Linked DNA regions of Homo sapiens. The protein of the gene in region 4 purifies or fractionates together with the protein of the main gene of each other region. This does not show direct contact. Each region holds a gene or a part of one and is shown on either strand. Other genes may lie near its edges.

Region 1 (4,326 bases), on a different chromosome or scaffold from region 4:
CAGGTGTGAGCCACCATGCCTGACTGTCATCTGGCCTCTGTTCAATGTTTTCGACCAGGAACCTTCTTCTGCCCCCTCTAGGAAGCCTTCCTGACACCCAGTGCCGGATTAGGTACCCCTCCTGTGTATTCTGCAGTTTCTGATTGGCTCATCATGGCATCTGTAAATGTTGATGACTTTTGCTTCTCCATAGACCCTGCCCAACATCTCTGACCTGTGTTTGAGAGATGTGCCCCCAGTCCCTACCCTGGCTGACATCGCCTGGATTGCTGCGGATGAAGAGGAGACATATGCCCGGGTCAGGTAGTTGAGGCAGTAGCTGGTCTGCTAAGGAATGGAGAACTTCCCAGAAGAGGTGGCAGGCAGCAAGGAGAGAGGAATGAGAACTGTGGGCTCAGAGAGGAGCAGAACCTTACTATACTACTCTCACAGAAGTGGGGGAAGGAACCTTAGGAGCACAGTGGCCTGCTGTCTCTAACTGATCTACTTGGTTTTCCCTGGTCCAGGAGTGATACGCGCCCCCTGAGGCACACCTGGAAACCCAGCCCTCTGATTGTCATGCAGCGCAATGCCTCTGTTCCCAACCTGCGTGGGTCCGAGGAGAGGCTTCTGGCCCTGAAGAAGCCAGCTCTGCCAGCCCTAAGCCGCACTACTGAGCTGCAGGACGAGCTGAGCCACTTGCGCAGCCAGATTGCAAAGATAGTGGCAGCTGATGCAGGTAGGAGCCCCTGTGCCAGGGCCAGAACGTAACAGGCTGTTCCTTTCCCCTGGCTCTTGGGCAGGATAGGGGTAAAGAAAGTGGTAATCCTTGGTTTGCAGGTACTTAGGTTCCGGGCCCTGGGGTTGTCCTGAAGCCTGGCTAGCCAGTAGTGCCTCTTAGATGGTTTCTACCAGCCATTTTGGGCTGAATGGTTTGGTTAAGAACAAAATATTAACCTGTGACCCCAGGCAGAGTCCCTCCCTTAGCCCCCAAACTGATACCCTCTTCTAAGTGTCTTTAAGATCACATCTTACATAAGCCCACAGTAGCTTTTTTTTTTTCTCCTCTGAGTGAGTCTTGCTCTGTCGCCCAGGCTGGAAGTGCAGTGGCACGATCTTAGTTCACTGCACTCTGCCTCCCAGGTGCAAGCGATTCTCCTGCCTCAGCCTCCTGAGTAGCTGGGACTACAGGGGTGTGCCACCAGGCCTGGCTAATTTTTATATTTTTAGTAGAGACAGAGTTCCACCATGTTGGCCAGGCTGGTCTTGTATTCCTGACCTCAGATGACCCACCCACCTCAGCCTCTCAAAGTGCTGGGATTATAGGTGTGAGCCACCGAGCCCAGCCAGTTTTCCTTTTTTTGGAGACAGGGTCCTGGTTCTTGCTCTGTTGCCCAGGCTGGAGTGCAGTGGCGCAATCTTGGCTCACTGCAACCTCTGCCTCCCAGGCTCAAGCGATTCTCGTGCCTCAGCCTCCTGAGTAGCTGGAATTACGGGTGTGCACCACCACACCTGGCTAATTTTTTTATTTTTAGTAGAGACGGGGTTTTGCCACATTAATCAGGCTGGTCTCAAACTCCTGGCCTCAAGCAATCCACCCAGCTCGGCCTTCCAAAGTGCTAAGATTATAGGCATGAGCCACTGTGCCCGCGGTTGAAACAAGAGTCTCATTCTGTCACCCAGGTTGGAGTGCGGTGGCACGATCTTGGCTCACTGCAACCTCCACCTCCTGGGTTCAAGCAGTTCTCGTGCCTCTGCCTCCCGAGTAGCTGGGATTATAGGCGCATGCCACCATGCCCAGCTAATTTTTTGTATTTTTAGTAGAGATAGGGTTTCGCCATTGCCCAGGCTGGTCTCAAACTCCTGAGCTCAAGCAATCCACTTGCCTCAGCCTCCCAAAATGCTAGGATTACAACCATGAGCCACCGCGCCCTGCTTTCCTTTTCAATACAAGAAGTAAACATTCCCCCCACCACCACTGAGACTTACCCTTTTTAAGCACCTATCTTCCCTTGCCTTGTTGTTTCTACCAGGAATCACAAGTGGCTTTACCACTTCAGTTCTTATACTGCTAGTGACATTGTCCCCATGCCCCACCCTTCAAAGTGGGGAGTTTCATGACATTATGTTATGTTTTCTTATCTCAAATTGGTGGACTTTTTTGGTGGAAGGAGAATTTCATAAAGTTGGAGATCTTGGCCTTAAAATACAGTGGTCGGGCACTGTGGCTTACGCCTGTAATCCCAACACTTTGGAAGGCTGAGGTGGGTGGATCACCTGAGGTCAGGAGTTCGAGACCAGCCTGGCCAACATGGTGAAACCCTGTCTCTATAAAAAATACAAAAATTAGCTGGGCATCGCAGCATGTGCCTTGAACCTGGAAGGTGGAGGTGGAGGCAGAGGTGGAGGTTGCAATGAGCTGAAGTTGCACCACTGCACTCCAGCATGGGCGACAGAGTGAGACTCCGTCTCAAAAAAAGAAAAAAAAAAAACAGTGGTCTATTATGCAAACAAGCCCTGTAACCCACCCCTCCAGCTTTCTGTCTACAGTTAAGGCAGAACCACTGGAAATGGATGGGAAGCCTGCCTTAACCAGAGGCATGGACAGCCAACAGGTGGATCGCTCCCAAGATGCTCAGGGCTTATCTTCATATTCCTCCCATCCTCATTTTTTCACTCTGCATTGACTCAGAGTCATAGCTCTGAAATTTATCATTTGGTAGGACACATGAAAATCATGGTGTTCTTTGAAATCTTCATGTATTTAATTTCTTCACATGGAAGTTTTATGAAGAATTGTACTGAAACTTTGTTATTTCTTGGCTACTTTTTTGTCATCCAAGAGACAAGCAGAAGTAACATCTTTTTTAGAAACATAGTTTTTAGTGTATTTAGTGTTTTTAAAGTATTTTTAGAAATGTAAAAACTGAGGAAATTCTCTCCACTGAAATTTGGGGAGGTTGGGAGGTCTGTTACCATTCTGGTTTTGCTCAGAACATGTCTTCTAGTTCACAGATAGCAAGATTTCAAAGGAGCATAGTCAAAAGCACTAGTCTAGTTAGAGAAAAGGACAAATTCAGGCCTTAGCTCTTATCTCTGCTGCTTTGGCCTATGACAGGGCTGTCACTCCACAGCCTATTGTGGAATGGGAGCTTTTAAATGCCAAGGCCATTATGGGGCTGGGTTTTCCTGCCTTCCTGGAACACTGGAAAAGCCCAGTGCTTCTACAGCTTTCTGAGCCCCCGAGTGAGAAGCATAGTGGAATGACCCTCCACTGGCTACAGATACCATCCTGGCTCTCCCAGATTGTCATGGTGTCAGCCCAGGAAATGAATGTTCAGTAGGCAGGGCTGTGGGGAGAAGATATTGCTACTGTGTTCTAGCCCCAATGTCCACCCATGCCTATTGTTTTCTCTTTCAGCTTCGGCTTCATTAACGCCAGATTTCTTATCTCCAGGAAGTTCAAATGTCTCTTCTCCCTTACCTTGTTTTGGATCCTCATTCCACTCTACAACTTCCTTTGTCATTAGTGACATCACCGAGGAGACAGAGGTGGAGGTCCCTGAGCTTCCATCAGTCCCCCTGCTTTGTTCTGCCAGCCCTGAATGTTGCAAACCAGAACACAAAGCTGCCTGCAGTTCGTCTGAAGAGGATGACTGCGTCTCTTTGTCCAAGGCCAGCAGCTTTGCAGACATGATGGGTATCCTGAAGGACTTTCACCGAATGAAACAGAGTCAAGATCTGTAAGTATCTGATGAGGAGCTCTGGTATCTATTTACTCAGAGTTGCCCATGGCCAATTATGTAATGCAACATACTTACATAGTAAGTTCTTAGTAGTACCATATGTTATGTCATTCATAAAGCTTGCTGACTACCTGCTTGCCAGTGCCTGGGGCCCCAGTTTGAGGAAAGAGCAACACTACATTTATTGGGTTTGGTCACCCCAACCAAATATGAGGCTAGTAGGGATTTTACAAGAAGGCTCATCTAATCCAACTTCTGTCCTCAGGTGGCTTTACCACTTCAGTCCTCATACTGCTAGTGACAGTGTCTTCATGGCCCACCCTTCAAAGTGAGGGGTTGCATGACATTATGTTTTGTTATGTTTTCTTATCTCAAATTGGTAGACTTTTTTGGTGGGAGGAGAATTTCATAAAGTTGGAGATTTCTGCTTTAAAATACAGTGGTCCATTGTGCAAACAAACCCTGCACATTCAGTGATTTGAGAATAAGGCTTTTGAGACTCACCAGTAGTTCCGAAACCTAGCTGCCCATCAGAATTGCTCAGATTTGTTAAAAATACACCTTTAACTTACTAAAGTAGAACCCCAAGGAGTGGAGCTCT
Region 2 (4,326 bases), on a different chromosome or scaffold from region 4:
GCTACTCAGGAGGCTGAGGCAGGAGGATCACTTGAGCCCAGGAGGTCAAGTCTACAGTCAGCCGTGATTGCACCACTCCATTCCAGCTTGGGCGACAGAGCAAGACCGTCTCAAAAAAACAAAAACGAAAGAAATGAGAGTGAGGTGGGGCTAAGCACTGCCTAGAGTCTGGGATCCGGTTCATTGGGAGAAACCCTGGGTAGTGAAAGTGTGGAGTGCTGTATTCCTCTGTTCTCCCCTAAGACTGGACCCAAAGATAGTGGTCAGTGGGAGGGGGTGGCCAGCCTCTTTGAGCCATTTCTTCTTCAGGCCCAGACGAGAGTGAAACTGAACTACTTGGACCAGATTGCCAAATTCTGGGAAATCCAGGGCTCCTCCTTAAAGATTCCCAATGTAGAACGGCGGATCTTGGACCTCTACAGTCTCAGCAAAGTAAGAACAGGTTTTTGTCAAGCACCCCTCCCACCAAACCCCAATATCCTTGATACTCTGGGGGCCCCCTTAGTTTGGATATTAGATCTTTAGGCTGCAATGGAAGGGGCACAGCTTGGTAGCACACAAGCTGTCATCAGAACATCTTGGAATCTTTTGCTGCAATTTGAGGTTGGGATAAGGGGATAGCCCCCAGTGAAGTGAGGGACTAGAGTTGCCCTCATTGCCCTTTTGCCCTTTCTACAGGCCTACTCCCTCACATATAAATACACGTGGCACATCCATGTCTTTTCCTACTTGTTTTTTCAGATTGTGGTGGAGGAAGGTGGTTATGAAGCTATCTGCAAGGACCGTCGGTGGGCTCGGGTAGCCCAGCGCCTCAACTATCCACCAGGCAAAAATATTGGCTCCTTGCTACGCTCCCACTACGAACGCATTGTTTATCCCTATGAAATGTACCAGTCTGGAGCCAACCTTGTGGTAAGGATGTCACAGTGGGGCAGGGTGCGGCTTTACCCTTCAGCACAGATTTCCACACTTGCTCTTAATGAAACTGGTTTAGTGGACTGGAGACCTGGGAGTTGGACTCTGCTCTTTCCTAGTGATGCTTATTCTCTTTCTACACTGCTCAGGGTCAGAGGTCCTGGAGTTATCTGTACGGCTAGCTTATTTGTTATGTGACAAAGTTTTAACTGATAGAGAAATCAGAGAAGGGAGAGCTTGGGCTAGAAGGTGTGGGAAGAGATGGCGTCTGATTTAGTTGGGGAGATGGTTGGTGGAGGAAGTGACTGGAAGGGAGGAGTGATACAAGCAAAGGTACTGAGAATTCCCAAAATGTGTGCTGGTGTCAGTGCTAAAGACCAGTGGAACAGGGGCTGTTGGTGTGGGTCAGGTGAGTGGACCACAGCTTTGGATGCCATTGGGTGAGGGTAGAGGGAAGTTATTGCTTTTGCGGGCTGGAGTCCATGTCCTGACCCTTACCCCTTACCTGTCCCCAGCAGTGTAACACACGTCCATTTGATAATGAGGAGAAGGACAAGGAATACAAACCCCACAGCATCCCCCTACGACAGTCTGTGCAGCCTTCCAAGTTCAACAGCTATGGCCGGCGGGCCAAGAGACTGCAGCCTGATGTGAGTACTCCCCTTCTTCGAACTTAGAGCTTTGAGGTGGAGGGAGTCCTCTCCTTCCTTCTGGCTAAGGCTGTGTTCCCTGTTCCATTATCCCTTCTTTTGTTCTCTGAGTTCTTCTGAGCATTAGTGTGCCTCTCTCTGGCTTCACTCTTGCTTTTTTCTCCCCTCTCAGCTGAGCTGCTGAGCTGGGTCTTGATCTGTTTGTGCAACCTCTTTTGTATGTCTGCTCTTCTTGCCTGTTTTGTTCCTTTCCGGACTTACTCTGCTCATAGAAGTAGAACTCTTCTTTCTCTTTATACCTGTATCTTTTGTTTTGTTTTGTTTTGAGGCATAGGGTCTTGCTATGTCGCCCAGACTGGAGTACAGTGGCTATTCACAGGCTTGATCATAATGCACTATAATCTTGAACTCCTAGGCTTGAGTGATCCTCTCACCTCAGCCTCTGGAGTAGCTAGGACTACAGGTGTGTACCACTGTTCCCAGCTCCTTGTAGCTATGTCTTCAGGCAGAAGCTTATGTGCCAGGCATTCTTGGCACTGGGAATACAATAGAGAACAAGATGGACACTGTCCCTGGGCTCATCGAAGCATGTAATTTAGCAGATCCTATTAGACTGCCATTTGTTGGTAATGCCAAACACTGTTAGCTTTTTCATATGTATTGTCCCTAACCCCCCTCATAACTATAAGGGAGGAGGTAATATTCTCATTTTACAGTTGGGAAAACTGAGATATCCTGTCTTTTATTCCTTTCTGAGAGAGGGCCGAGGGGGCAGCTCACCTACCCTCAGTCTCCAAAAAGCAACTCTGAGTTCTTGGCTTAGCCCATCTGTGCCTCAGCCCTCAGCATGAGATCAGGTGATATGTAGTCCGAGTTACTGTTCTTTTAGGATGGGACAGTCTGCCCCAGATAGCAGTCTTGATTCATTTCCTTCTTTCCTTCCAGCCGGAACCCACAGAGGAAGACATTGAGAAGAATCCAGAGCTGAAAAAGCTACAGATCTATGGGGCAGGCCCCAAGATGATGGGCCTGGGCCTCATGGCCAAAGACAAGACTCTGCGGAAGAAAGGTAAGGCCTAACAGGCTGGGGTGGCCTCACCTGGGGAGAAAAGTCAGGGCCCTAAGTGTCCTAGACCTGTGTTTACAGCCATTTTTCTCTCTCCCAGATAAGGAGGGGCCTGAGTGTCCCCCCACAGTAGTGGTGAAGGAGGAGTTAGGTGGGGATGTGAAGGTGGAGTCAACATCGCCTAAGACCTTCCTGGAGAGCAAGGAGGAGCTGAGTCACAGCCCAGAACCCTGCACCAAGATGACCATGAGGCTACGGAGGAACCACAGCAATGCCCAGTTTGTAAGGACCCAGCCCTGACTTCTTAATGCTCTGCTTCTTGTCCCTTCAATAAGCATTCCCCTGCATGGCACTGGACCAGTTCGCATTAACCACAAAAGCGGGCCTCCATGGGCCCTGCCCTCAGGTAGCTCACTTAATTGGGGAAACAAAGCCAACTCATATGGAACAAAGAGCAAGAAAGGGTGATCAAGTGCTGTCAACATGAAGTGCTGGAAGGGTCCAGAGAAGGAGTCTCACTCTCCATTGCTTCAGGATAAAGGCTAAGCTCCTCATTACCATGCATGATCCAGTCCCTGCTGACCTCTAGCCTCATCCCCCAGCACTGCCCACCTCACTCCTCTGCTATAGCCACACTGAACTCCTTGTAGGTATGTTCATTTTTCCCCGTAAGATGCAGTATGCTCTTTCATCCCTATCCTTTGCACATGTTGTTTCTTCAGCCTGGAAGAGATTCCCCCTGTGCTCTGCCCTGTTGCCATGTTTTGTTTTGCCTTCAGGTTTCAGCCAGTTTCAGGTGTTACCTTTTCAATGAAGTCCTTTCTCAAGGCCATCCCTCCTTATCTCCAGCTGCTTTGAGTGCTTCCTTCTCTAGGCTCCCACAGTGCCCTTTATGGACCGCTATTGGCAATTTTTAATTTTTATGAACACATGTCTCTAGAGTACTGTATATACTTGGAAGGATACCATGTCTTGTCTTTGTGCTAGAGTCCAGCGTAGTTCTGAATACGGGTTTAGTAAGTGTTTATTGGATGAATAAAAATGGGAGGATTCAAGACTGGATGATAAAAGACTGCTCTTGCAGCTCTACCTGCTTATTTGGGGAGATGGTACATACGTGCAGTTGAGCTCCAGACCTAGCATGACTAGCCTATACAGGGCTGTAAATCATTCAGCCAGCAAACACAGTGGATTTCCAATGGAGAACTTTTGCTCTTCTCCCCTGGCAGATTGAGTCATATGTCTGCCGGATGTGTTCTCGAGGGGATGAGGATGACAAGCTCCTGCTGTGTGATGGCTGTGATGACAACTACCACATCTTCTGCCTGCTGCCTCCTCTGCCTGAGATCCCCAAGGGTGTCTGGCGGTGCCCAAAGTGTGTCATGGCGGTAAGGCCTCCCCACTCCACATCTGCCTCATAGGGCTTCCTTGCCTTCCTTCATCTGGCCTTATTGAGGGCAGCCTCTTAGCTCAGCCATAGTCTTAGGTTTTGGGTCTCTGTGGTGGGATTAGGCTGGGCAGAGCTTTGGGAGAAAGGAGCAGGAGATTCAGCCTTTGCTTCTGTCCTCTAAGAGCTCCCAGACCACCTGGAGAGGTAAGCATCATAATTAGACTATATGTGGTGACATATAAACAGAGGCTAAATTGTGTGTTAGAAACTCTGAGATATAGAAGTTCAGAGGAGAGGAAAATAGC
Region 3 (4,326 bases), on a different chromosome or scaffold from region 4:
GAGGGAGATTGCAGTGAGCCAAGATCGGACCACTGTACTCCAGCCTGGGCAACAGAGAGAGACTCCATCTCAAAAAAATAAAAATAAACATTCTTGTATTCCATCAAAGGAAAAAATAAATAAAAATCACTTATTTAAAATCTGATAAGTTAATAATTCATTTATAAGCTTAGCTCAAACTCTGAAATTATTAGTCATACTGAAATTTTTAAAAAGTAAACACACACATGAAAATCATCATGGTAGAAAAATGAGGTGATACATCTGTACTTGTGGTTGTATCACAAAATAATAATGACCCAATTTGTAACTGCTTTTCTTTTTAAACCAATGGATACGTTTCACCAAAACTAAGCTTTCTAGATTTTCAACATATAAAAACTGGTATTTATATTTGAACTTACATTCAAAAGATGATTCAAACTCCTCATTATCCTTAAAAGCTAGCTTGTCCACATCTGAAAATTCACTTTTGTCTTGAAGTTCAGTTTGTCTTCGATAAAGACTAGATTGGAAGGATAAAACTCGTGAAGTTTCAATAATGGAAAACCAAAGAGTACAAGGTGACAAAAAGCCTTTTGTGACTCAAGAAAAGGCTCTACAAAATTCCCTTTCTCTTTGTCTTGTAAATAGCTCCACCTCACCACCACCACTAGGCATTGTTCTCAGCAATTAATACCTGTTTAATCAGTTACTCCTTGTAACTATTTCATGCTGTGAAGTAGGTACTACAGTTGTTAATAAAGAATAATGTTGTACTCTGAATGCTATTCCTAGGAAATAACCATAAAACATTTCTGAAAAAAAATTCTGCACACTATCAGCATGAACCAGATGAAGATGCAACACCACAACCTTGAGTGAGCAAAGCGCCCTAACTCAGCATATGTGTGTGTCTTATCCTTCCTTTTGGCTTATCACAAAAAAAAAAAAAAAAAAAAAAAGCTTTAGGACTACGACAGGCCCATGTGGCAGAGAACTACATTAACATGCAGATGCCCGAGATCGAGCCTGGAGCTAAGGAGTCAGTTCCCTCTGCTGTGGGGCCCAGGTATGGGTAGGAGTCTGCTCATGACTCAAATCATAGCCTGGCTGACCCAGTGGACTAGTTTCTAAAAACATCCACTCCTTCCTGTTTCAACAATCATACACCAGAGCCTGCTACCACGTTTGAATTTATTTCAATGATATGCAGGTCAGAACCTTATCTGTTTATATTTCAATGCCAAAATATTTTAAAAATGACTTTTTAATGATGTGTAAAATTGTTCCAACTTTATAAATAACCTCCATTTGTTTGCTTTCAGATTTTGTACATTTGTTTTTTATCTTAATAAACCAAATCTATTCACAGAACTAGGAAGATGCTTATTAATACCAGATTGCATGGTCCATATATCAAGTTTAGCAAATAAGCATTATCCACTTATTTGCTAAAAGCAATCTTTTTCCCTCCAGGTAATTTAGATGATTCTCAAAGATGACATATCATTTTGCAATCTGATTGCAAATTCTATACTGCCACATGATCTATAATAATTATCTCAAAAAAAAAAAATCCCAGTAAAACAAGTGAAGGCTGACAGAGCAAGTAACATTATTCAGCTGAAGCTAATCAATCAGAACGTTATACTTACCCCACTTTCTGCTCCGGAGGGCTGGAGACAGGAGGGATGGAGAGGCTGTGCCTAGACTCAGTGGGTGATGGTAGGGGCATTCTGTCAGGACAAGGACTGGGGGAAGCAATGTGTGATCTGCCCAGACCTAAGGTGCAGAAAGAACCAAGGCAAGAATATTACCAATTGCACGGAGAAGATACCAACGTGGTTTCTAAAGAGCTCTACTAGTTTGAAAATAAACTGTTATCCTCACAAATAGCCAATTATGATGCATAAGATCCAGAAAACTAATGATTCAAGCACCTAAATTAAATTGCAGTGGCAATAATAAAATGCAGGAAACCAACAGGCAGCAAAGGCAAGGCAACTATCACTCTCTAAACAGCTCTGTGTGCCAAACACTAGACCTTGCCACTCTGGCCCGCTGACCCTCACGGCAACCCTGTGTCGTGGGCAGGGTGGCTACCCAACTCCAGAGCACCCCGCAACCCTTTGTGCGGGTGGCTTACCTTCCAGATACATTTCACTTTCGAGGCTTCTTTTTGCTTTTGGAAGGGGTGTGGAAGAGAGGCGTCTGGAGGAAGTGCCCCCGCGGAGCCTCGAGGCTGCACTGCCTGTCAGTGCTTCCACGACGTCATTCCTTTCTTCAAGTGTGCCCACTTGAGGCTGCTCAGAGACAACTCTGTCCTCTCCAAAAATATGTCTTTCCGGGGAACTGGAAGTAATGTTTTTGAAGGCTTCCAGCAAGTGCAGAGATGGTGGGCTCTTTGCTGCTAGTGGGCTTTTGGCAGAGTTTTTAATGACTCTCCGATGGTAACTTCTGAAAGCCTTTTCCAAGCGTTCGGCCTCTTGCTGAAGCTCTTTGACCCTTGCCTTAGTATTGGCTACAAACTCAAGGTCAGAATCAGGGGAACTACCCTCCACCCATGCAGTTGGATAATTTGTGATCCTTGATGCAACCATACGTGCTAGAACGTTTTCCTGTTTAAAAGGATTGTTCAAGAAATCCCCACTTATCTCACCATTGCAAGGCACCACATTGCCATTTATTAATCCATTGACAGAACGATCGATCACAGACTGCTTTGGATTGCAGTACACTTCATTCTCTAGGGCTGCAGGGTACAAAAAGCCAATTTCAGAAGTAAGTGGACAAGGCAGAGAAGAAAATATACTTGAGAATATTATTTTTTTGAAAAATGGAAGAGAGTAATAAGGACAAACTTGCACTATACAGTTTCTGAAGCCATGGTAACGATAACCACTAACATTTACTGAGAGCTTATTGTACCAGCTACAGCTTTGTATGTCTTTTGTAACATGATATAATTTCAGAATCCATTATGCACAATTTTGAAAGCCACAAGGCTCTGAGAACTGAAAATTTATTCATAATTTATTTGGTGGCAAAGCCCAACCAGACTTGAACTCATTTGGTTGAAAAGTTTGACCTGAACTGATGTAAACCCATTTATAATCTTTATTTATCCCAGCATGAATATTCATACAGTTGACTGCAAAATAATTAATGTGCTTTACTATAGGATGCTGTTCAGAACTCCCAGGGCTATTGCGAAATCCACAGCATATGGCCCGAGTTTCATATAAGGAAGTGAGGACCTGCATTCACAACAACACTGTGGTCAAGAAACTCTCACTGCTCCCATTTTACAGATGGGGGGACTAAAGCTTACTGAGGCTGGGTCACACGGTTAGCAAGTCTAAGAGCTACTGGGCTTTCCTAATGCAAAGCCAGTGCACCTGCCCCTCTCTCCTGCAATGCCTCCCCGTGATGCTACAAGAAAGAAGCTTGCCCTCGGCAACACATGCATGCGAAAGAGTTCTATCCTCATTCAACTATTTTTTATTGATAGGAGACTGCTATGATTTCAGCTGTGAGAAGTTTCACAAACAGAACTGAAAGAAAATGAGGAACAGAAAAAAGCAGAAACGAGTAGAGATAAAAATAAAACAAGTGCTGGTAGAAGAGAGCAAGGAGCTGATGAGGAAACAATGCAGGTGGGAACAAGGAAGGCTCAGACCCAGTTGAACTGGTAACACATACGTACTTTCTTTGAACTTGAAAGCAACTGAAGAATAAAGTATCTGAACTTTAATATCCTTCTTACGAAGTAGGAAGGGGCAGAGATGCATCCACAGTGAAGACACAATAATAAAATGATACCAATAACCATTTCCTGAGTGTCTTTTATGTCCCAGGCACTGGACTGAAACCCATTTCATCTTTTTCATCATGGCTCAGTAGGTATTATTATCCCCATTACAAATGAGGAGACTGAGGCCCAAGGAAGTTAAAGTAACATGCCCAAGGTCAAACAACTTCAAAACGGGTCCAAAAGAAGAACAGTTCTGATTCTGAAGGCAATATTCTTTTTGCTAAACCACCCTGCTTGTCCTGTATATTTATATATCTATCAAGGAATCCGTAAAACTACTGAATTGGTGTTAACATTGGGGTAACAAATAAAAAAGGAAATCCTATAATGAATATGGGGACTTCTATGTTACCACCACGCCTTTCCTATTGGGGCATGAGACTCTCCCAAGCCATGAGGCACCTATGAAGCAAAATACTTTTGCTGATGATCCAGATGGTATTACCAAAATGGATAGGGAGTTTTACTTCTAAGATGACACATATTTCTATGGCTTTTCCCCTAAAACAATAATTAATATTCAATAAATT
Region 4 (4,326 bases):
TGGCCCAGTTTTTGCCCTTTCCTGGCCCTGAAGTATATTTAACTGCCGTCCATGTCATTGAAGACTGGAGACCTTGGGCTCAGTAATTATGTCTTTTAATGTGGGTCTGGTATGCAGCTACAGCCTTGCTGGATTTAGCAGAGACAAGTGGAGAAAAGACCTCTGGATTTTTCCTTCCGCTCTCTGCAAACAGACCAGGCAGCAGTTTCATCATGAATTCAGGAAACAGATGGCTAATGTTTTGAGAATTAAATATGGCAAGGAAAATTAGATTAAGCATATCACAGCCTGGATGCCTATTGCTAGAGCAGCTATTAAAGACAAACTTCTGCCCCATCTGCTGGGACAGCAGCCCATATCAGGCTGTGGTACCCCCACCCGGGGCCCCTAGGATTAGTGTCATTCTGTGGTCAGCTGAGTAAGAGCACTGGGTACTTGGCTGCTAGCTGAGTATGTGTGTTTTCTAGGACCTTGCTCCTTCCATTTGGTGGTGAACCCATTGATAGCATCTTTGTTTTATTTTCTCTCTCCTCCTCCACTCACTCCCTAGCCCTGATTGATTTCTGTTTCCATAGCAAGTCCGGGTTTAATTCTCACCTTTTCAAAATTTGTACTTACAACAGAGGAGAGCATAGAATATTAGAACCCACTAGGATGGAAAGGGCATGATTTGAAATCAGACCTGAGTTTAAATTCCCCCTCTGCCACTTACTGATTGTGTGACCTTGTCTCTTTTATCATAGTTGCATGTTTTCTTGAAGCCCCAGCCCCCATCTCCCAGAGACTACAGCTATACTGATAGAGGACATTCCCTTCTGCTCTGGGTTTTTGTCTTCAGCCTCATCCCCTCCATATGCCAACAGTGCTGTGCACATAGTCGTTAATTGGTTAATAAGGGTTAGCCATTCACACTAATAAAGAATTAGCACATTCACCATTTGAATGAAGAGGGCTAATAAATACATTTGGCAAATATTTATAGAGTCCTGTTATGTGCCAGGCATTGTTAGGTAATGGATGTGCAAATCTGGGCATGGGGCCTGTGGTGGTATCCTGGGTGGGAATGCTTCTTTGAGCAGGTGCCATTTAAGCTGAAATCTGGAGGAGTTGGGAAGGCAAAGATGGAAGTTGCAACACAAAGTCCTCCAGACTTTGGAGTCTCACATGCAGTCTTCATTGGTTAGGTCTACTGACCTCTGCATTCATCACTATGCCAGATTTTCCTCTAGCACTTTAATTACCTGGCTGCTACTGCTCTTTTAATTGGTCCTGATTTCTTATGTCTTCCTAATAGAAAGCACCAAGTTTGTTAATTTATTTCTCCTGCCCTGTACTTCATAGCAAGCTTTTCTAATTTCCTTTCCCCAGCCATAATTTCTGTTGGTGCCCTATCTATAGCCCCTTGAAGCCCCCCATTCCCTTACATGCCAAAGCTTTTGCCTACGTGTAGATGAGATTCCATGCCTGAGGGCTTTCTCTGGGCAGGAATACTGGGGAGTCCCCAAATAGTGACCAACAGCAATTGATGGATTAATACCCCAGCACTCGTGCCCTTGGTTGAGACAGCTCTGGGGTAGTTTCTAGATGGTTTACTGGAGTCCCCAGAAGATTTGAACCCCAATTGCCCATAGGGATAACCTGCCTATTAGCCTACTCCAGGTTGGCTTTCTTCCCTTCCACCTCTGTCTTCTCCACTCTTTCTAGTGCTTCCTGGCATCACTTCCCAAATAAACTACTTGAAGTCAGAGCTTCAGAATCTGCTTCTGGGGGACCCAAACTTAAATAAAGGGCAGATACGGGGTTTTGGTAAGTCATACCATGCAGACCTTGTCCAGTGTCTGCCCATGGGTGAAAATTCAGAGCAGCACTGAAAAGGTCATTGCATGAAGAAAATACCCAGACTTAACTGGGAAAGGAGAGGAATATAGAAAAGAAAGTTTTACTCCCTGCTGCATTATTTAATCTTTTCTTGTACCTCATTTACTCTTCACTGAACAATTTTGCAAGATAAATCTGTCAATTTCCTTTCCTGCAGGTAAAGAAACTGAGGCCAGAAAGATTAAGTAACTTGCCCAAGTTCACAGACTTGGGGCAACACAGCCAGGATTCTGATAGAAACTGTGCTGCTTTCTCAGTCCAGTAGTCCTCAAATGTGTTGAGGAGGCCCAGCGTATGGTGTCAGTATGATTTTTACAGATTATAGTAAAATCTCAACATATTAGATTCAAAATAGCTAAGTATGTTATTGAAGTATAGTTAAGCTTACTCTTCCATAGAGGCCACTTCCTCCAGGAAGGCTTCCTTAACCTCTGCACCATTCCCATGTGCTGCACAGCACCCTGAATCCTGCTGTAGCCCATCAGGATAGTTTATTGAAATTTCCTGTTTAATTGTTTGTCTGTATCTCTCAAACTCAGAGTAGAATAAGGGTCAGGATTGTACCTTACTTATTGTTGTGGCCCAAAACCTAGAACAGACCTCAGTGTATATAGTACATGGTTAATAAATACGTGAGTGGATGACTATACTTATAGCTAAATATAGTTATGCCCAATCAATTACTAGATTCTGATCTAGATATGTAAGAGGCAGCAGAGGTCTGAGAGAGTTGGATTAATGGGAGAAAAACTTGAGAAAAGCCTGTCATTCAACTTTGTTTTCAATTTGGGGAGCAGGGCAAGAGCCTGGTTTGAGAACCTTTGTCCCCTGCCCATGTTGACTTTGGAGGAACTTTGTGGCAGTGATGGAACAGCTGCCACGTCGAGGAGCCTCCTCACAACCTCCAGCTGCCTCCCCAGATCAGCAGGGGTGATCTGCCTTCAGCTTTCTACCCCTAGCTTTCAGGGCCTCAGTCAGTCCTTTAATTTTGTCCCCTGAAGGGCGTGAGGCTAGGGGAACAGGCATTCATTGAACAACTGTGTATCTCCTACTCATTCTTCAAGAGAGGCCACTTCCTCCAGAAAGGCTTCCCTAACCCCTGCGCCATTCCCATAAGCTGCACAGCACCCCGAATCCTACTGTAGCCCATCAGGATAGGTTATTGAAGTTTCCTGTTTGTCTATATCTCTCAAACTCTGAGCAGAATAAGGGTCAGGATTGTGCCTTATTTATCATTGTGTCCTTAAAACCTAGAATAGACCTCAGTGTATAGTACATATTTTATAAATATGGGAGTGGATGAATGTATCAATTTTATGCTAGTTCCTGAAAATACAAAAATTGTTAAAAAAAAAAAAAAAAGCGTTTTTGTTTCTCAAGAGCTCCTGGGGGTCTAGAGAGATGAGTAAGTAAATAATGAAATTATGGTACATAAGTGGCCTGTCCTTGTTGATGTCACGGGAGGCCTTCTGTGGGAACTGGGGCTTCCATTTGATTTTAAATGAATAGTAGTTGGAGGCAAGCACAGGATGTGCAAAAGCATTGAGATACGGCACAGAATGACTCATTCTAAGAATTACAGGTAGCTCCAAATGGCTGGAACACATTTCTAGATAACAAACCTAGGAAAACTAGTTGAGACCTGGCTGAAAGCGTTTAACTTTGTACTAAGCATTGTGGACTTTAGCCTAAATACCTGGGGTGTACCACTGAAGGATTCTAACTGGGGGAAAGACATGCTGGTTTAGAAAGACTGCCCAGGGCAGCAGGTGTTTGTCACACTCCTCGGTGTTTTTCTCCCTTGTGTCCTCAAACCCACTTATACAGGGCCTGGTACAAAGGACATGCTCAGTAAAGACTGGCACCTTTAAATGGGAGTAGGAGGAGAGAATATCACCAGAATTGGTGTAGAAGATCCATCAGAGGTGGAAAGCCTAGGAAGGCAATCATTGAACTCATCTGACTGTTTTTTAGGATTCCTTCATTGTGCATTTATTTCCTTCTTGGCAATTGTTACATTATCCTGAGCTTGTGGGATTATTCTATGTATTCATATGTAAGAGTTTCATACTTGTTGAATAGTTATTTAGAGATTGCTTCTATGAAAGAAAACTGCGCTTCCTGCATCCACCTTTCTGTTCTAAACACAGCAGCCAGAGTGATCCTTTTTGAACTTACGTGAGGGCCTGTCATTCCTGTGCTCAGAATCTTCTAGTGGTGCCTCATAGAATTCAGCGTCAAAGCCAAAGGCTTTATCATGACCTAGGAAGCCTGCATGACCTGGCTGCTCTCTGATTTTTCTACCCACCTACCTCTGCGCTCTACACTGGCCTCCTTGCTATGCCTCAAACACACATGCTGTTCCTTGGATCTAGAACACGTACACCAGATACTCACAGGGCTCACTCCCTCACTTTGTTCAAGCCTTTGCTTAGTGATCGTCATCTC
Region 5 (4,326 bases), on a different chromosome or scaffold from region 4:
AGATTACAGGCATGAGCCATAGGACCCAGCCAGATACTTGATTTTAATGACTTACATGACTGAAAAAAAGGTACCTTCGGAGATTCACAGATCCTAATGGAAAAACTGATGCTAATTGAAGAATTGCTGTACTCCTACTGTTTCAATTCTAAATGATCAATTATGCAAAGAATTTTGTTGAACTCAGCAATGACATTCCTTTCATTCCTGATCTCAATTAGTTTTTCTATTATGGCTAATTGACATTGCATATATACACACAATTAGGTTTAAAATTCAGTTTTTCAAGCTCTTTGTTCAGAAGACTTAGATTGGTTGGAATAGTCTTTTCATGTTTTTAAACATTTTGTAAACTATATAGATAATGACTTAAAAAATAAGCAATGTTTTTAATAGACATTGTTTTCAGCAACAAAATCATGGAACAATGGAAACATTTCCAAATACAGTTTTTCAAATGTTCTCCTCATAGTACAAGTAGTCTTTGAAAAGTGGTTGCTTTCTTACTCATTATTAAAGTGCTATCTTTATTTTGAAAAGACAGATTAAGTATGTTTTGTTTTTTGGAAAATATCTGCTAGGTAGCATGTACTACTGATAGTCATTGTCATAAATACATAAATAGTCAGTGGAGAATTCTTCTCTGTGTAAAAGGAAAATGCTTATCTTTAAATCCAACCCTTAAACACTTGGCCATAGGAGAAACCAGGAAACCAGAAGGTAATTGCCATTCACTTTCTCTTTACAAAGATTCTACTGTTTAAAGGTCTGGTTTTATTCTATAGAATGTATGTGGAAATGTTTCAGTGTGCAGAAGTGGAAGGAACATCCAACTGAGGGCACCACTCTTAATCCTTCTCTGTTGTGGAACTACTAGTTTTCTCTTTGTACCAGTTTGATATGTGGCTTGAAGGAAGGTGCCAGTGCCCATTTGTATATTAAATATAAGTACAACTTTTCAATCTAAATTTGGAAAATTTAATATAGAATGTCTCATTTTCCTCTCACATCCTTATGAATCATCTGATAATACTTTAGGATATATGCATCCAGTTTTGGAGATTACTACCTTAAACGTGGCATGAAGTGGAGGGAGAAATAGAGGCAAGGGGTTTGGGATTGTTCCATCATTGGAATAGACTGTCTAAAAATTTCATAAACTCCTTGTCCCTAGAAGTGGTTGAAATGGCAAAATGTTGAAAGGAGGAAATTCTATTTGGGGTGGGAAGTTGGATTTAATGACTCATTCCTTTTTAACTCTATGACTGTGCCTTTATTTTTGATTTTTAAATGGAATTTCTTTCATTAATCGATTCAGTACATTTATTGAGCTCTTAGCATGTGCCACTGTGAGGGGCTGGGGGATATAGCAGTGAACTAAACAAAGACCCTTTTCTTACAGGAGCTCAAGAAGATACACATTAACAATTTATTACACTGAGGCCTTTTATTTTATTTTTTTTTTGAGACAGGGTCTCACTCTGTCACCCAGACTGGAGTGCAGTGGCGTGATCTAGGCTTACTGCAGCCTCAACCTGCTAGGCTCAAGCGATCCTCCTACCTCTCCTCCCCTCCCTGCAGTAGCTGGGACTACAGGTGCATGCCACCACACCTGGCTACTTTTTGTATTTTTTGTAGAGACGGGATTTCGCCATGTTGCCCAGGCTGGTCTTGAACTCCTGGACTCAAGCAGTCTGCCCATGTCGGCCTCCCAAAGTGCTGGGATTACAGACGTGAGCCACCACGCCTGGCCACTGAGGCCTTTTAACTTCAGTTTAAGAATGTTTCGATTGCTGCTTATATTCTCTTGGTGTTTAATAAAATTATCTTCAGTTCAAGAAACATTGATTACTGATTATTTGTCAAAGGTCACCTGGAGACTAGAGTGTTACCTTCACTTTTTCTGTTTATATGCGTGAAACTCATTGATGATAATTGAAAGCAAAATACCCTTAAACAGAAGAATAAAAAGCTCTAAAGGACTCTATGGTGGGGCATTTATTTGCTGAGTAGTTCAGGTGTCTCCACTTTTAGTTTAAGAGTTATTTTCTCGTTAGCATAGTGGTGACTAAAAAAAAAAAAATACTTGATAGGACTGGTGAGGAAACACTTCATAGGACTGGTGTGGAAAATGTTGCTTGAGCCAAGTAGGTTGAGAATTTTTACTACTCATATACTATAGTAGCCTTGGATTTTCCCAGAATGACTGAATTTCAAGGTACCTTATGCTACAAGATATATGGGATTTTGCTCAAGTGGTTATAAGACTGGGCATAAATATAACCTATTTAAACATCTTATACTTAGGGAAATTATTTTGTAGCTTAGTGGTGCAATGTAAATTCTGGAACTGTTGACTCTCCAAAACTGTTAACATTTATCAGTTTTTTTCTTTTTTTCCTTTTCTTTCTTTAGAGACAGTCTCTGTTACCTAGGCTGGAGTACAGTGGTGTGATCAGCTCACTGCAGCCTCAAACTCATGGGTTCAAGCGATCCTCCAATCCAGCCTCCTGAGTAGGTGGGGACTACTGATGTACACCACCACACCCAGTTAATTTCTTTTAATTTTTGTAGAGACCGGATTTCACTATGTTGCCCAGGCTGATCTTGACCTCCTGGGCTCAAGTGATCCTCCCACCTCAGCCCCCCCCAGTTTCTGGAATTACAGGCATGAGCCACCGTACCAGGCCCCTTTAATATTACTCTTCACTGCTGTAATAAACCTTTTTGTATTTAGAGGTTTAACTTTATTTCAACTTCTCTGCCACAAAATTGGGACGAAAACTTGGTGTTTACTGAGAAGAGAGTTCCATCAAGTCCCGTTTCTCTCATAGTTGTCTAAGGTTGACAGTTTGCAGAAGCTAAGTCATTGCCTCCATATGTTTTAAACACTGTTAGGTTTTTAATAGTTCATTTTTACTATACAATTAATATATGCTCATTACAAAAAATTCAAACAGTAAAGAAATATATGAGGTATGAAGTAATAGAGCTTAATCCCATCTCTTCCAGAGATAACAATATGGTACAAAAGTTTCAAACTTTTAGTTGTGGAAATACTTAATACATGAAGCAAGCAGTTCTACTTACCTTTTGAAGTCTTTTATGATGGGCCATTTTTTTAATGGAATGTGTCAAACATTCTTAAAAAAAAAAAACTATGAAAAAATCTGAAAAACACAAGTAGAGGGAAGAACCTTGATGACCGTAACTTGTGGTACCTAGTTGATGGTGAAATAGGAAATTCTAGAGAAGGAGCAGGTTTTCTCCACTGTCTGGAGTTGGGAGTGGGAGGAGGAGATTGAGATTGGACAGAGAATAAGTTTTACTATATTGATTTTTGAGGGGGCTTTAGAATGTGGGGGCTTTAGATCCAGGTAGAGAAGCTCAGGAGGCACTGGGAATATACGTATAGGAAGATTGCAGTTGTAAAGATATGGGAGTTATCAGAGTATCAATAGTGAATAACAGTGGCAGGAGATGGAACTGCACAAAGTGCGTGGGTAGTAAGTAGATCAGCTTGAGAAACAAAAAAGGCCGAAGATGAAACTTAGATGAACTCCAACATTTTAAATTGTAAAGGATCAGAAAAAAGATTGAGAGAGTGAAGTGTTACAGAAGTCAAGGGAAGTTAGAATTTCAAAAAAGGTGAGTGGTCCTAGGAACTAGGTAGAGATGAGAATTCAATAAAGATGAGGACTAAATATTGTTTATTGCATTTGTCATTTTAATGGTGGTTACAAGCAGTTTCAGAGGAGCTGAGGGTTAGAAGGTCGCTTGTAGTTTGCAGTTTGAGCAGATAACTACCTTGACAGAGAAAATGGGGTTGATGGCTAGGGGGAACATGGAGCAAGGTTAGGGGTTTTAGTTTACTTTTGAAAATAATAATGATCATTTATTAAATACCTTCCATCTCTATATACTGTACTGTGTGGGTGCTTTTACATACATTATTTTACTCTAAATTGGGTACTAACTTTCTGTTTACTGTGAGGTTAAATAACTTACTCAAGCTTAGTATTAAACAGTGCAGCAAGGTTTGAAACCTGTCTTTCTGACTTTATATTTTTTTTTTGTACACCACACTGCCCCAGATTCAAGAAACTTGAGCTTCTCAGACATAACAGCACTGGGTTCACCTGGGAATTTGCTAACATTCAGGCTTCTGGCCCCTTCCATACAGATTTTGGCTCTAGAAATTCAAGAATCTGCATTTTTAATAAACATCCTAGGAGATTCTGATACATGTGATCCTTGACTGCATTTTTAAAAATACTTGCACTAAAGGAATGGAGAGTTTTTCCATTGCGTTTTAAAAGCTTGTTC
Region 6 (4,326 bases), on a different chromosome or scaffold from region 4:
TTAGGCTACTTGGGGGTCAGTGACCCACTTGAGGAGGCAGTCTGTCTGTTCTCAGATCTCCAGCTGTGTGCTGGGAGAACCACTACTCTCTTCAAAGATGTCAGACAGGGACATTTAAGTCTGCAGACGTTTCTGCTGCCTTGTTTGGCTATGCCCTGCCCCCAGAGGTGGAGTCTACAGAGGTAGGCCAGCCTCCTTGAGCTGTGGTGGGCTGCACCCAGTTTGAGCTTCCTGGCTGCTTTGTTTACCTACTCAAGCCTGGGCAATGGCAGGCGCCCCTCCCCCAGCCTCGCTGCCGCATTGCAGTTTGATCTCACACTGTTGTGCTAGCAGTGAGCGAGGCTCCATGGGTGTAGGACCCTCCAAGCCAGGCGCGGGATATAATCTCCTGGTGTGCCGTTTGCTAAGACCATTGGAAAAGCACAGTATTAGGGTGGGAGTGACCTGATTTTCCAGGTGCCATCTGTCACCCCTTTCTTTGACTAGGAAAGGGAATTCCCTGACCCCTTGCACTTCCCAGGTGAGGTGATGCCCCGCCCTGCTTCAGCTCATGCTCAGTGCACTGTACCCACTGTCTTGCACCCACTTTCCGATACTCCCCAGTGAGATGAATCTGGTACCTCAGTTGGAAATGCAGAAATCATGTGTCTTCTGCAATGCTCACGCTGGGAGCTTTAGACTGGAGCTGTTCCTATTCAGCCGTCTTGTCTCCATCCCTATTTATTAGTTCTAATAGGTTTTTTTTGTGGAATCTTTAGAATTTTCTACATATATGATCATATCATCTGTGAACAGAGATAATTTTACTTCTTTTTTTCCAGTTTGGATGCCTTTATTTGTTTTTCTTCCCTAATTGCTCTGTCTAGAACCTCCAGTACTATATGTAACAGAAGTATTAGGCTGGTGCAAAAGTAATTTCGGTTTTTGCCATTACTTTAAAAAAAAAATGGCAAAAACTGCGATTACTTTTGCACCAACCTAATAGCATCCTTTCATTGTTCCTGATCTTTGTGGAAAAGCTTTCAGTCTTACTGCTTTGAGTATGACATTTACTTTGGGTTTTTTGTATATGGCTTTTACTATGGTGAGATAGTTTCCTTCTATTCATATTAGTTGTGTGTTTTATGAAAAGAAGTTAAATTTAATCAAATGCTTTTTCTGTTTTCATTTGAAATGATCATGTGGTTTCTTCTCCATTCTGTTAAGGTGGTGTATTGCATTGTTCGATTTTGTATGTTGAATCAACCTTGCATTCCAGGAATACATTCCAGTTGGTCATAGTGTATAACCTGTTACAATCCTGTTGAAGTGAGTGTGCTATATTTTGTTGAGGATTTTTGTATCAATGTTCATAAGGGATATTGGTCTTAGTTGTTTTGTGGTAACTTTGTCTGGCTTTGATATCAGAATAATGCCTCTTAAAATGAGTGTGGAAGTGTTCTCTTTTCTTCAGTGTTTTAGAAAATTTGAGAAGTTGAATCAAGATATTTTAATCTTTTTTTTTCCTTTTTGTGGAGTGTATGTTCCCAGATAGCCATTCACATGGTTGGCCCCATTATATCATTTAGACTTCAGTAAAATGTCTTTTGGGCCTTCTTGAATGTCAATCTAAAGTAGCTTCTCAGTCGTTCTCTATCAGTAGCTCTCTATTGTTGTCCTCATAGCAATTTTCACAGACATTTTCCTGTGTTATCCTATTTTCTATCAAATTATCCCGTTGCTTATAGATAGAATATAAGCTTGAGAGCAGTCCCTAATCATTTAGAATTTTTATGGTTGATTCTGTTACATAGGCATGATTGATTAAGTCTTTGGACATTTGTGCTTAACTAAATCTCTACCCCCTCTCTCCTTGCAGCCCTCCCGTAAGTCAGGGGTCAGGCAGAAATTTCCAAACATCTAATCACTTGGTTGGTTTTTTCGGCAACCAGCTCCCATCCTGAAGCTATCTAGGCTCCCACCAAGAGTCACCTGATCAGTATAAATTCTGGTATGGTTGAAAGGAGCTTATTATGAATGACAAAAGACAGCCCCTCTCACTCTTGTGAGAGGGTGAGAAAACAAAGATAAAATATCTTGATTCAACTTCTCACTCACTCAGTCAATTCACAGGGTCTTAGGAGATTTTGTGCCAAGAACCTACAAAGACCAAATATTTCCTGTGATTTCATAATATCACACTACCTTACAAGGTTGTTTTAAGAATAAATGAGAGAATGCATGCATAACTCTTAGCACATTGCCTGGTACAGATAGCAGTGGCTCTACTGCTACAACTGTTAAGAAGATTTTCTTTCTTTCCCATCCGTCTCTTCCTCGGCCTTCTCTACTCTCCCCTTTTTCCCTCCTCTGATAGTCTTTGCTTGTGTTTCCATTTTCCTAATCTTTCTCTGACGTTTTTTCTTCTGAGTTCTCAATATTAGGTCAGAAGTCCAGAACTTGGAAGGGTTAGGAGTGGCATTGGTGTAGGAGCTTCTCGCAGAAGATTCATTGCAAGCCTCCCTCCCTCATTTACTTTCCTTTATGTAAAGCTGTTGGTTTCATTTTCATCAAGAATCTGAAATATCTCAGGGGAAGTATCTGAATTTACTTTTTCAGAACAGATATTAGCTGTGATAGTGCCCTCCCAGTATTAGAAGATGTGGGAAATCACTATTATGATTCCTTATATCAGGCTGATTCTTGAGATATGTTGTTTGCTTTAGGAATGATACTGATAATTTTTTTTTTTTTTTGAGATGGAGTCTCGCTGTGTCGCCCAGGCTGGCATGCAGTGATGTGATCTCAGCTCACTGCAACCTCTGCCTCCCAGGTTCAAGTGACTCTCCTGCCTCAGCCTCCTGAGTAGCTGGGATTACAAGTGCACGCCATCACGCCTGGCTAATTTTTGTATTTTTAGTAGAGACGAGGTTTCACCATGTGGGCCAGGCTGGTTTTGAACTCCTGACCTCAAGTGATCTGCTCGCCTCAGCCTCCCAAAGTGCTGGGATTACAGGTGTGAGCCACCACGCCCTGCTGATACTGATAATCTTAAAGAGAGAAATTTGATCATCCTTTCATTAGTAAAATGTGTAATAAGAAAGCTTATTGTGGGAAGAAGAGGTTCTCGATTATTTACCCCTTTAGCATTTTCCTGGAGGTTTAGCGGTCATTAGAAAGAAGTACTTGTGGCTAGGCATGGTGGCTCACACCTATAATCCCAACACTTTGGGAAGCTGAGGAAGGAGAATTGTTTGAAGCAAAGAGTTCAAGACCAGCCCGGGCAACATAGCGAGATCCCCATCTCTACAAAAATAAAAATAAGTTAGCCTATTGGGTTGGCATGTGCCTGTAGTTCTAGCTACTCGGGAAGCTGAGGTGGGAGCATGCCTTGAGCCCAGGAATTTTAGGCTGCAGTGAGCTATCATCACACCACTGCACTGTAGCCTGGGCAACAGAGTGGGGTCTCTTAAAAAAAAACACACACACACACACGGAAAGACATACTTGTTACTAGTGCTCTTTCGTAAGATTTTATCTAACGTGGCATTTTAATTATGGTTTTAAAAATATTTCTTTCCAGTTAATAGAAGATGAAATTGCAACCATTCTTAAATCTACATTGAAAGGACTAGAATATTTGCACTTTATGAGAAAAATACACAGAGATATAAAAGCTGGAAATATTCTCCTCAATACAGAAGGACATGCAAAATTGGCAGATTTTGGAGTGGCTGGTCAGTTAACAGTAAGTTAACTTTAATGGTTTTCTAAACACTTGGCTAATTTGTTCAGATTTGATTATAACTAAACTTCAATTACTTTTTGAGGGGGAATGGAAAGAAATGTGTAGTTTTTTAATTTTTGTGGAGAAGGAACCATAATTGAGCCAAATTTGAGTATTATTTAATTTATAATTTAGGGTGATTGAATGTGAAAATATATCTTATAATCAAAATGCTTAAATGTTCTAAAAGGGAAGCTACGTAGCTCATTTCTGTAGCTTTTATCATTGTAGCACTATCTTTAATGACTGTGTTTAATGATGGTAGTGTGGATAAGTTACCTGTGGACTCTTGGTTATTTTCAGAATTCGGAATTCCTAAGTATGTCATAACTAGTTGAAATTTTAGCAAAATAGTCAATTTCTGATATAATCTGTGGCATTGGAGGTTTTAACATTTTTTAAAAGTATGTTTGGCATACAGATTTCCTTTGTGCTTTTGTAGTAGCATTTATGGCTATGTAACATTATTGCAGGATACAATGGCAAAACGCAATACTGTAATAGGAACTCCATTTTGGATGGCTCCTGAGGTGATTCAAGAAATAGGCTATAACTGTGTG
Region 7 (4,326 bases), on a different chromosome or scaffold from region 4:
TGGTGTCTCTTTCTCTTTTATGAGGACAAGGGCTGCTCCCTTATGGCTGCTCCGTTATGACCTCCTTTACCCTTGAAGGCCAGATCTGTAGTAGAGTCACATGGCGGGGTTAGGATTTCAACATATGTTTGTTTGTTAAGATGGGCAGTCTCACTATGTGGCCCAGGCTGGTCTCGAACTCAAGCGATCCTCCCCTCTCAGCCTCCCAAGTACCTGGTGGCTGGCAAGATCCAAGATTACTGGTGCACACCACCATACACAGCTTCTTTTGTTTTGTTTTTGTTCTTTAAAAACATTTTTTTAACATGCATTTTGGTGGGGATACAATTCAGTCCACAGCAGTGACCAATTCCATTTTTACCTTGGAGCCCTCCTGGAATCCTCCATCCTTTCCCTGTCATTTGAATTAGTTGCTCCTCAGACTGACTTGACAGATTTCAGCATGAGTGTTAATGGGGACAGACGGCCGCACCCACACCACATCAGGGTATACGTCCGTTTGGAGGCTTTCCTCAAACGTCTGGCAGCCCTGGACTGCCTGTGTATGCTGAAGAACAGGGCACAGAAAGGCTGAGTCTGCAGGGCACTGGCTGTGGCTGCCAGGCTGGGCTCCTTTGTTGGGGGCCTCCAGTTGCCAGCACATCTGTGGGATTTTCCCTAGAGTCTTCAGTCTCTCCAGAGCAGGTGCCTCTGAGCCCTGGCCCAGCAGGTACAGACGCTGAAGCCCAATAGCCGGTCTTCCGGGAGGTGGTCTGGGGAAGGGGATCCAGGTGGAGAGTCCCCCTCAGTGCCTGCTTTCAGCCTGGCCCTCCTCCCCCTCCCTCTTGCCTCCTCAATCTGCCGGTTGCCTCCAGGGCTCTCCTAGCTCAGCTTCCACTTAGAGCCCACTTCCTGTCTTCTGCAAGGAGCAGGAGCAGGGATTGCAACCTGAGAATCTAATTGTTCTTAAAAAGAATTTCAACCCGTCCCTTTGTTTTCAGTGGCCTGCTGTGTTCCTACCACTTCCTGAGTCTTTCTGAGAATGAGTGGGGGAGATCTCTGGGGACACTTGGGCTTGAGTGTCTCTGCCGAAATCACTTCCATGTCTCTGCCTTCTTTCCCTCTCTCCTAAAACATATTACTCCTTCCACTTTCTTTTTGTGGGTGTAAGCCTCCATATTACTTTGGTTAATTTTAGTGTGCTTTGGAACACAGATGAGTGCATGTTCATTCTGCCTTGTTTAATTTTAGAGACAGGGTGTTGCTCTGTTGCCCAGGGCCGAGTGCAGTGTTAAGATCATGGTTTACTGCAGCCTCAACCTTCTGGCAACAAGTGATCTTCCCACGTCAGCCTCCTGAGCAGCTGGGACTACAGGTGTGCACCATCACACCTAGCTAATTTTTTAATTTGTAGAAATGAGATCTCACTATGCTGCTCAGGCCGGTGGTCTTAAACCCCTAGGCTCAAGCAATCCTCCCTCCTTGGCCTCCCATAGTGCTGAGATTACAGGCATGAGCCACTGTACCTGACCCCTTTCACCTTGTTTAGCCTGACAACCCATCTTCTCCCTCTCAGGTCTTTCCATCTCAGTCTTCTGCACTCCAGGCTTCTGCGTCTTCTTCCTCTGCTCAGCCTTTAATTGTCGATGTTTCTGGTTCTATAGCTTCATCTTCTTGTGTGCAGTCTCTGTGAATGTACCCTGTGGCTTTATTACCTTTGACATTCTTCTGTCTTCTAAATCATCTCCTGAATAGAGTGTTTTCTCCTGTCCTGGGTGTCCCGCAGCCCATAGAAGCAGCCATGCTGTGGGACACCCTGAGTGGGGTTTGTGTTACCTGTTGTGCCTACCATGCCCTTCCCCGCCGTGGATGCACAGGTGCCCCACCTTAGCTGCCCCAGATGCTGTTTATCCTTGATAGTCACCTTTTAAGCCTTATACAGGTCTATCAAGTTGAGTCACCATTACCACTTGGTGTGTGCTGTGCCTTGTGTAATACTGCAGTTCCGGGAGTCATCCAACCTGGAATGCATGCTTTGCGGGGATCTATGATGCCCTCGAATTGTATGTTACATGTGAACCTGTGAGCATTTTCTAGGGGCTCTGCACCTTTGTGTCCTCAGCTCTGAGCCCCATGCTTGCTGCAACCAGCAGGTGTTCAGAGTGAATGAATTTGCTTATCTTGGCATAAATCATGTAACTGTTGATGATACCCCAGGAAGGTGAGCCTTTGGTTATAAATCCTTTTAACATTTTCCAGTCTAAAAGTTTTGTGGTCTTATTACACGATGTAGAAAACAGTGGGCCTCAGTTATTCTTTTGCTGTTGTGCCGGAGTATACCACGGTTGTTTTTGAAAGATAACTTTGACCATACCCTTAGGAACTTCCTCAGCTCACTTTCAAATGGAGGGCACTGGCTTTCTAACCATTGTGTCTCCCAGCCCAGTGACAGCTGAAGCTGACTGCTTCCGATATCACAGACAGCACAGAAGAGCCGCCCTCCAGGTGCTGCTGGGAAATGCTGCCTGGAACTCTTTGCCATTTACTTTCTATCAAAAGCTGAGGGAAATGGTACATATGGGGCTTTCCTAAAAATATGGGATCCATCCATTTGTCAACAATGTCATTCTATCCTATCCCAGGGCCTTTCAAGATTTTGATGAAAACTAATAGATCCCATATTCCAGAATAATGCTATTAATAATTTTATTATTATTACTTAATGATAGCAAAAAGTTAGCTAACTCCAACCGCTCACTTGTTATTTGCCAGGTAATCCTCTAATCCAGAGGATTTGGCCTTTTGTGTGTGTTAATGTCCTGCTTGCACCAGCTCTATGAGGAAGGTGCCGCTGTTGTCATTTCCATTTCTGCACTCGTGGAAACAAGCGTAGTGAGGCCAGCCTGAGCCACAGAGCTGCAGGTGGGGGAGACAGCTGGAACCCTGGCACCTGGCTGTGGAGTTTGAGACTCTGACTCCTGCGCCGCGCTGCTGCCCCAACCGTAGTCATACGAGGTGTTTCACCCCGCCCTGGATACTCTGAGATCCCCTCTGGGTTCAGCAGGCTCAGAGAGCTGACTGCCTGGAGCAGAAGGCATGGGGTCCTCCAGAGACTCCCCTGAGCTGAGTTCCCCTGTGGACACCAGGGCCGCCTCCTTGTGGCGCTCCCTGAAGGGTCCTCTCTGGAAGAACTGTATTGGTTCCCTGGGGCTGCTAGAGGAAAGCTTCACAAACTGGGGCTTAAACAACAGAAACTGACATCCCACAGCGCTGGAGGCTGGAGTCCGAGATCAAGGTGTCAGCATGCTTGGTCCCTTCTGAGGGTCGTGAGGGAAAGATCTCTTCAGGCCCCTTTCCTTGGCTTATAGGTGGCGTGTTCTCCTTGGGTATCATCACATCGCCTGCCTTCTGTGCATGTCTGCATCCACGTGTCCCCTTTCCAATAAGGATATTAGCCCTTTAGGCTGGGTCCCGTCCTAGTAGTCTCATCTTAACTAATTACATTTGCGACAGTCCTATTTCCAGATCAGGCCACATTCTGAGATGCTGGGGGTTAGGATTTCAACACAGGAATTTGGAGGAATACAACTCAATCAGGCTTATGGAAAATTCTGGTCTTAAGTCAAGGGTAGTGTTCTCCAGTCTGTATATGGAGGCGCACACCTATGGTCCCAGCCACTTGGGAGGCTGAGGCCAGAGAACTGTGTGAGCCCAGGAGTTCCATACCAGCCTGGGCAACATAGCAAGACCTCCTCTCAAAAACAGACAGAGTGGTGTCTTCCAGAGTGATTAGTTTGCTTAAAAAAAAAAAAACAAAACAAAACACAAACCGTAAGCACTGGCGCTCATGACTGATCATCCTGTATCCACGCACGAGCTGCACGAAGGCCGCGCGGTCACTCTGGCTCCCTGTTGGCGAGTACCTGGGATTTCTTGCTCAGCATTTTGGGGCCTTAATTCTTTTAGGGGACTTTTTGTCTAATGTCTCCCCTTCTTCTAATTATGTGCGATATTTACATAGAATCTGATAAACTGCTTCAAATTTGTTTTCAGAACAGTGAGCTGGATAATTAAAGAAGCTTTTTCCTGCTTCTTGGGCCCAGTTTCCATTTCTTTCTTTTTTCTGTTTTTCCTGGCTATTCTAGTGCTAATTTCCTTCCTTTCCTTTCCTAGGCTGGTCTTAGAGCATCCTCTCCTATGTACAGCCAGACCTTCTTTCAAGCTTTTATTAAAATGGGGAAAGGTCATTTGGGAGGCTTTGTTGTTTTCCTGTTTCTAAAGATCATTTTTCTTCCTGCAGGGGAAGTCCTTAAGTCTTATTTGTGGGGCCCTCTCTTGGCTCCGTGA

What was found.
Region 1: the proteins of SKP2 (region 4) and MTFR1L purify together in Homo sapiens (affinity purification with mass spectrometry; 2 studies listed by BioGRID and IntAct, with this or other methods). This does not show direct contact.
Region 2: the proteins of SKP2 (region 4) and KDM5C purify together in Homo sapiens (affinity purification with mass spectrometry; 2 studies listed by BioGRID and IntAct, with this or other methods). This does not show direct contact.
Region 3: the proteins of SKP2 (region 4) and OFD1 purify together in Homo sapiens (affinity purification with mass spectrometry; 2 studies listed by BioGRID and IntAct, with this or other methods). This does not show direct contact.
Region 5: the proteins of SKP2 (region 4) and ATG2B purify together in Homo sapiens (affinity purification with mass spectrometry; 2 studies listed by BioGRID and IntAct, with this or other methods). This does not show direct contact.
Region 6: the proteins of SKP2 (region 4) and STK3 purify together in Homo sapiens (affinity purification with mass spectrometry; 2 studies listed by BioGRID and IntAct, with this or other methods). This does not show direct contact.
Region 7: the proteins of SKP2 (region 4) and DDX11 purify together in Homo sapiens (affinity purification with mass spectrometry; 2 studies listed by BioGRID and IntAct, with this or other methods). This does not show direct contact.

What each region holds. Positions count from the first base shown.
Region 1 is NC_000001.11:25,826,109-25,830,434, forward strand, and holds part of MTFR1L (mitochondrial fission regulator 1-like), read left to right. Parts: intron 1-193; coding exon 194-303; intron 304-506; coding exon 507-718; intron 719-3,400; coding exon 3,401-3,722; intron 3,723-4,326. UniProt on the Homo sapiens protein: Mitochondrial protein required for adaptation of miochondrial dynamics to metabolic changes. Regulates mitochondrial morphology at steady state and mediates AMPK-dependent stress-induced mitochondrial fragmentation via the control of OPA1 levels.
Region 2 is NC_000023.11:53,214,382-53,218,707, reverse strand, and holds part of KDM5C (lysine-specific demethylase 5C), read left to right. Parts: intron 1-309; coding exon 310-432; intron 433-741; coding exon 742-912; intron 913-1,430; coding exon 1,431-1,565; intron 1,566-2,510; coding exon 2,511-2,634; intron 2,635-2,731; coding exon 2,732-2,913; intron 2,914-3,860; coding exon 3,861-4,019; intron 4,020-4,326. UniProt on the Homo sapiens protein: Histone demethylase that specifically demethylates 'Lys-4' of histone H3, thereby playing a central role in histone code. Does not demethylate histone H3 'Lys-9', H3 'Lys-27', H3 'Lys-36', H3 'Lys-79' or H4 'Lys-20'.
Region 3 is NC_000023.11:13,758,523-13,762,848, reverse strand, and holds part of OFD1 (centriole and centriolar satellite protein OFD1), read right to left. Parts: intron 2,735-4,326; coding exon 2,129-2,734; intron 1,765-2,128; coding exon 1,638-1,764; intron 506-1,637; coding exon 405-505; intron 1-404. UniProt on the Homo sapiens protein: Component of the centrioles controlling mother and daughter centrioles length. Recruits to the centriole IFT88 and centriole distal appendage-specific proteins including CEP164. Involved in the biogenesis of the cilium, a centriole-associated function.
Region 4 is NC_000005.10:36,158,069-36,162,394, forward strand, and holds part of SKP2 (S-phase kinase-associated protein 2), read left to right. Parts: intron 1-4,326. UniProt on the Homo sapiens protein: Substrate recognition component of a SCF (SKP1-CUL1-F-box protein) E3 ubiquitin-protein ligase complex which mediates the ubiquitination and subsequent proteasomal degradation of target proteins involved in cell cycle progression, signal transduction and transcription.
Region 5 is NC_000014.9:96,356,517-96,360,842, reverse strand, and holds part of ATG2B (autophagy-related protein 2 homolog B), read left to right. Parts: intron 1-4,326. UniProt on the Homo sapiens protein: Lipid transfer protein required for both autophagosome formation and regulation of lipid droplet morphology and dispersion.
Region 6 is NC_000008.11:98,706,548-98,710,873, reverse strand, and holds part of STK3 (serine/threonine-protein kinase 3), read left to right. Parts: intron 1-3,562; coding exon 3,563-3,727; intron 3,728-4,239; coding exon 4,240-4,326. UniProt on the Homo sapiens protein: Stress-activated, pro-apoptotic kinase which, following caspase-cleavage, enters the nucleus and induces chromatin condensation followed by internucleosomal DNA fragmentation.
Region 7 is NC_000012.12:31,079,534-31,083,859, forward strand, and holds part of DDX11 (ATP-dependent DNA helicase DDX11), read left to right. Parts: intron 1-4,279; coding exon 4,280-4,326. UniProt on the Homo sapiens protein: DNA-dependent ATPase and ATP-dependent DNA helicase that participates in various functions in genomic stability, including DNA replication, DNA repair and heterochromatin organization as well as in ribosomal RNA synthesis.